Homo sapiens: one gene and its partner. The protein of the gene in region 2 purifies or fractionates together with the protein of the main gene of each other region. This does not show direct contact. Each region holds a gene or a part of one and is shown on either strand. Other genes may lie near its edges.

Region 1 (3,500 bases), about 36 Mb from region 2:
TTTGATCTGAGCATATTAGTGACATGTCCTTTAAAAACATGTATCTAGCTTTTATATACAGTTATGAGCAAGTAACTTGAAATTTTTGGCCTATGTCAACAAATTTTAGCATATGTTAATATTCCAGAAAAGAAACTCAGTTACATTTGCAAATTGAAATTTAGGTTTTTTCACATATATTGATACCATTTTTTTATGTGAATTCTTTTTTTTTTCTTTTTGAGACAGAGTCTCGCACTGTTTCCCAGGCTGGAGTGCAGTGGCATGATCTCCACTCACTGCAACCTCTGCCTCCTGGGTTCCAGCGATTCTCCTGCCTCAGCCTCCCGAGTAGCTGGGTTTACAGATGCCCGCCACCACGCCTGGCTAATTTTTTTGCATTTTTTAGTGGAGACAGGGTTTCACTATGTTGGCCAGGCTGGTCTTGAACTCTTGACCTCGTGATCCACCCACCTTGGCCCCCCAAAGTGCTGGGATTGCAGGCGTGAGCCACCACACCCAGCCTGTGCGAACTCTCATTTGATGTCTTCTTTTTACATTAGAAATATCCTTAGAGCTTTCTTGAATTTCCTAAGAAACAATGGCAAAGCATTATTTTCACCTTTTAGGAGTTTCGGGGTGTCTTTTTGGTTTTTTTTATCTTATTTTTTTATTTTCTCTTGGGTGTCCTAAGCATAACATTAGTTTACAGTTTTACGATTTTTTTAAAGTCAGGGTCATAAAAACAAGAAAAAATAAACAATGCCGAATTGTTTCTGTTTTTCATAGAGACGGGGTTTCACCGTGTTGCCCAGGCTGGTCTGTAACTCCTGGGCTCAAGCAGTCCACCTGCCTTGGTCTCCCAAAGTGCTGGGGTTACAGGCGTGAGCCACTACTCCCTGCCTAGTTTATTGTTTTAAAGGTTTTACACTTCTCCAGCTTGTCTTGACACAGAGTTCATATTCTGGAAAGGCTTTGGAAGTAGTTTTAGGCACAATTATTATTCCCATGTCTTTGTCAATAATTTGTGTATTTATTTGCAGCAGTTACAGTTGTTTGTCATACTGCCCTTTGGTCATAACTTCTAATTAGGACCTAACGTACTAGGAAAGATCAAACACATGGCCTGTTGTACTTAAAGATGTAATCGTTAAAAAAAATGGTAGGCTACTTAGTAGAAGTTGATTACACAGGCTTTTTTTTTTTTTTCATAAGTAGCAGCTGTAGTGAAGTACGTATTTTTTGTTTTAATTACAGGTCTCACAGATTGACCTATGATTATTTTAATGTCTTGATCTGCAGCTGTAGGGGACTTCCACTATTTAAGAAGTTGCTGGCCGGGCGCAGTGGCTTACGCCTGTAATCCCAGCACTTTGGGAGGCCGAGGCGGGCGGATCATGAGGTCAGGAGATCGAGACCATCTTGGCTAACACGGTGAAACCCCGTCTCTACTGAAAAATGCCAAAACTTAGCCAGGCGTTGCGGCATGCGCCTGTAGTCCCAGCTACTCGGGAGGCTGAGGCAGGAGAATGGCATGAACCCGGGAGGCGGAGCTTGCAGTGAACCGAGATCGCGCTGCTGCACTCCAGCCTGGGCGACAGAGCGAGACTCCGTCTCAAAAAAAAAAAAAAGTTGTCTCCAGTTCTGTAAGGCAAAACAAACTGGTTGGAAAAGATTAAAGTATTTTATACTACAATATGAATACTTGGGTTATTGGCTTTAGGCATATCTACATGGTACTTACAATACTAGAGAACTCCTTGAATATATTCATCTAGCCCAGATGTTTTGAACAACTGTGCATGTTGGATACATGTAGTCTTTCCAGCTTTATACATGAGCCACAATGTTTTTGGACCTGTTATCCCTCAGCCTTTGGGAAAGAGAATGTCTTTTTCTCCTGTTTTATGAGCTGTGTAGTGTGCGTGTGTATCTTAGTGAACTAAGATTGGATACTAATCTGGGATCAGAATCCTGAATATGGCTAAAAGATGTACGTCTTAGTACAGACATTTATAGATGATGATGTTTAATACCGTAGCGATCAGATTCCAATGAATTAAACTGAGAGAAGAAAAGAAGGAAGAAGGTAGTTGAACAATTTTAGAATGGTTGTTTGGTCAAGAATTACTAAAATGAGAAAATATTTAAAAGTTGTTTGAATTTTTATTTTATTCATTAGATACTGGTAGACACAGTCTGGGCCCTCTCTTACCTTACTGATGCTGGCAATGAACAAATACAGATGGTAATAGACTCTGGAATAGTTCCTCATTTGGTTCCTCTGCTCAGCCACCAGGAAGTTAAAGTTCAGGTAAGTTTGTTCTTAGTTAAATTATAAGTATTTCTTACCACTAATTGCTTTAAGCATGGCATTCAAAGATGGACAATTTCAGTAGTTTAAAGTATATTCTTAGCATAACAACAAATCTGTGATGGAAAGGGGAAAATAAATAATAAGATGCCATTGTAGATTACTAATTTCTTTTTTTAAGATGGGGTCTCACTGTCACCCAGGCTGGAGTGAGGTGGCGTGATCTCAGCTCACTACAACCTCCACTTCCTAGGTTCAAGGAACATTCTCCCACCTCAGCCTCTTGAGTGGTTGGGATCACAGGCACACACCATCATGTGTAGCTAATTTTTTTCTATTTTTGATACAGTCAGGGTTTTGCCATGTTGGCCAGGCTGCTCTTGAACTCCTGGCCTCAAATGATCCTTCCACCCCAGCCTCCCAAAGTGCTGAGATTACAGGTGTGAACCACCATGCCTGGCCGGATTACTGATTTTTAATGTAGACCAGGGAAGTTCATTATAGCAACATGCATGGCATCTGAAACAAGTATTGACAGACACTTATTTTTTCCTACTCCTCTTCTTTTTGTTCTTCCTCTTTCACTTCCCTACTTCTTTTTTTTTCTTCCTTGCCAACCATCCTTATTTACTCACCTGGCAAGTTTAGTTAACTCTTATCTTCATTGGTGCTGAAATAAGGGTACTCTACTGAAATGTGCTGTTTAGGGACTTTCTAAATTGTTGCTTTTCACTTATTTAAATTTATTTTTTATTGTTTAAATTCTTTCACATAATATTTATCCCAAAGAATTTGCATTTAGAAAGAGCCAAAAACAGAGTGTGAGAAGTTCTCAGAGATATAAGCAGTAGCTGTTAAGCTACAGTTGTAATGGGGGAGACGCAGCAAGCTCCCTCTACCTTTCTGAGGTAAATAGTATATTTTAATCTGCTAATGGCTTAGAATCTGTAAAGTACAATAATCGCATAAGAGAAACCGTTAGTCTGTAGCCTAAGTCATTATGCCTGAACATCAAAATAAACTGTGTGGAGCTGTTTTTAATTTCTCCTGCTCAACCCCTGGAGATTTCTGTTTCAGAAAATATTTCTTAGAAACTTGAGCTTTAAAATGCTCTTCAGGTGATACTGATACATAGTCAGATTAGAGACCCTGTACCTTAAAATTAAAGCACTTTAAAGAAGGAACACTTAGCTAAATACAGAAAGAA
Region 2 (2,312 bases):
GTGCATATGTCCTGCTTGAAATGTTCACATTGTGGCATCTGAACAGGTTTCACTGTTTGTCTAACATGTTTGTGGGAGGCATATTTGTTACACCATTCTTTTCCATACTGTAACTCTGGATTCTTTCCATTAAAGGTTCGGGATGAGTATCGGCAGGACTACGATGCTGGGAGAGGAGGCTATGGAAAACTGGCACAGAACCAGTGAGTGGTGAGAGCTCTGTCAGTGACAAACACTCCTTTGGCCTGTTGAATTTGCTGAAGAACATCACCTAAAGTCTGCACACGAGCCCATTTTTACCAAGATTTGATCAGTGTCTTTACTGAGCTGGAAGCCTCTGAAAGTTATTAAAGGACAGAATCCAAAAGAATGCCTTTAATTCTTGTCTGAGAATCTTGGCCATGTGTCAGATTATCAGAACAATTTTGTTACCAGGTCAGAAATTGTGTTCTTTGACAACAGATTGGATCTGTAATGTTGATTAGTCTTTAGCCATAACCACTACACTTTTAGAAAGACAGAAAAATGTAAGAATTTGTTTTTACCATAATGAGTCTTAAGTAGGTTCATGATCTACATTGGGGCCTGGGATTATTTTTTTAATTTTAAGTTTGCATGAGATAGCCTAATAAATGGAGGTGGGGCCAGGCATGGTGGCTCACACGTGTAATCCCAACACTTTGGGAGGCTGAGGAGGAAGGATAGCTTGAGGCCAGGAGTTTGAGACTAGACTGGGCAACATAGCAAGACCCCGTCTCTACAAAGCACAACGAAAAACAACAAATGGAGTTGTGCTATGTTGTATTGCTTTGCACAAAATTAGGAACAGGTGTTTGACAATTGAATTTGTTTTCTGTGAATTCTAACCTCTAAAGGCATGCTTAGAGGTCAAGGACCTTCCTGTGTAGTTGGTGCAAAAGCAATCTCCACAGGACAGCACTGCTTCCATGCTTCATACATCAGGAAATGAGGCCAGAACTTGAGTATTTACTAACACGTTTTTCAAAAGATGTCAGTGTTATACCTAAAGCTAAAAAAAAGCAAGGGTTTGTCATAGAGGGAACCTCTAAATAATTTCAGGGGTAGGGGAGATGTTGTCAATAGGAAATGGGATAAAATATCAAGAGACAATGAAAACACTGCCTTGACATGAGGACCAGCAAGTTTATTCTTTTCATTTTCAGTGATGTTGGGAATGGACTGGGTTTTAAAAGGGAGCTTGAAGAGGGAATGTTTGACAGTCACAGAAGGTTCCTGCAGCAGATGCCTCTTTTAGCCATTTCTCATTTTTTTCCTCAAATTTTACCTACTGAGGCTCAAGCCTTCACAGTGAGCTGATGGTCTCTACAGGGAGGGGAGTCTAGGGAATTTATTTGGTATTTGTAAGGCAAGAGGTGATTTCTCTCTAATATATCTGAGTTATTGCTCATTTAAAACTGTTAAGTCCAGTATAATTTTCCCTGATATGAAAAAATGTGCATTTTTTTCACTTAGCAACAAAGTACCTTCTAATTTCCAATAGTCCGTGAAAGTTGGGGCTGAAGTACCTAAGTGTGAATGTCTCTCCCGTTAAACTGAGTGTAGAAATCTGAATTTTTAAAAGAGCTGTAACTAGTTGTAAGTGCTTAGGAAGAAACTTTGCAAACATTTAATGAGGATACACTGTTCATTTTTAAAATTCCTTCACACTGTAATTTAATGTGTTTTATATTCTTTTGTAGTAAAACAACATAACTCAGATTTCTACAGGAGACAGTGGTTTTATTCGGATTGTCTTCTGTAATAGGTTTCAATAAAGCTGGATGAACTTATCGTTGTTGCTGCCTGTTTCCTGGCCTATAAAGAGGGTTGTGTTCTGGAATTCCTGTACTCTGGATACACATGAATGAGTTCCAGGGGGATTCTATGAATAGTGTGGACAATTCGCGTGTCCATTTTGATTGACTGACAGTTGGAAATAACTATTGCTGCGTGTGAAGAGAGCGCACAGATTTTCTTGTGAAAGTGATCAAATAGGCACCAAGCAACCTCTACTGATGGAAGAATAGGTTAGTTTTCCAAAAAACATGCTCTGGATGATTGCAAGGGAAGGGAAATTGTGGGTGGATTAAGAACATCTTATGTTTCCTGGGCTAGAGAACACTAAATGTGAGTCTCTTTACTGCACCATTCTTTCCTATTTCTCATGGATAGCATCTGACCTGTTTCTCACTTTAATCGGAGAAAAGTGAAAATTCAAACGTACAGATGAAGGCATCACTATTAATACATGTTAGTGAAGTGTGAGAATTAAACATTCAGTTTCTCAGTCA

What was found. The genes of interacting proteins can lie anywhere in the genome.
Region 1: the proteins of NCBP2 (region 2) and KPNA4 purify together in Homo sapiens (affinity purification with mass spectrometry; 2 studies listed by BioGRID and IntAct, with this or other methods). This does not show direct contact.

The regions. Positions count from the first base shown.
Region 1 is NC_000003.12:160,520,572-160,524,071, reverse strand, and holds part of KPNA4 (importin subunit alpha-3), read left to right. Parts: intron 1-2,161; coding exon 2,162-2,293; intron 2,294-3,500. UniProt on the Homo sapiens protein: Functions in nuclear protein import as an adapter protein for nuclear receptor KPNB1. Binds specifically and directly to substrates containing either a simple or bipartite NLS motif.
Region 2 is NC_000003.12:196,934,906-196,937,217, reverse strand, and holds the end of NCBP2 (nuclear cap-binding protein subunit 2), read left to right. Parts: intron 1-135; coding exon 136-207; 3' UTR 208-1,812; downstream 1,813-2,312. UniProt on the Homo sapiens protein: Component of the cap-binding complex (CBC), which binds co-transcriptionally to the 5' cap of pre-mRNAs and is involved in various processes such as pre-mRNA splicing, translation regulation, nonsense-mediated mRNA decay, RNA-mediated gene silencing (RNAi) by microRNAs (miRNAs) and mRNA export.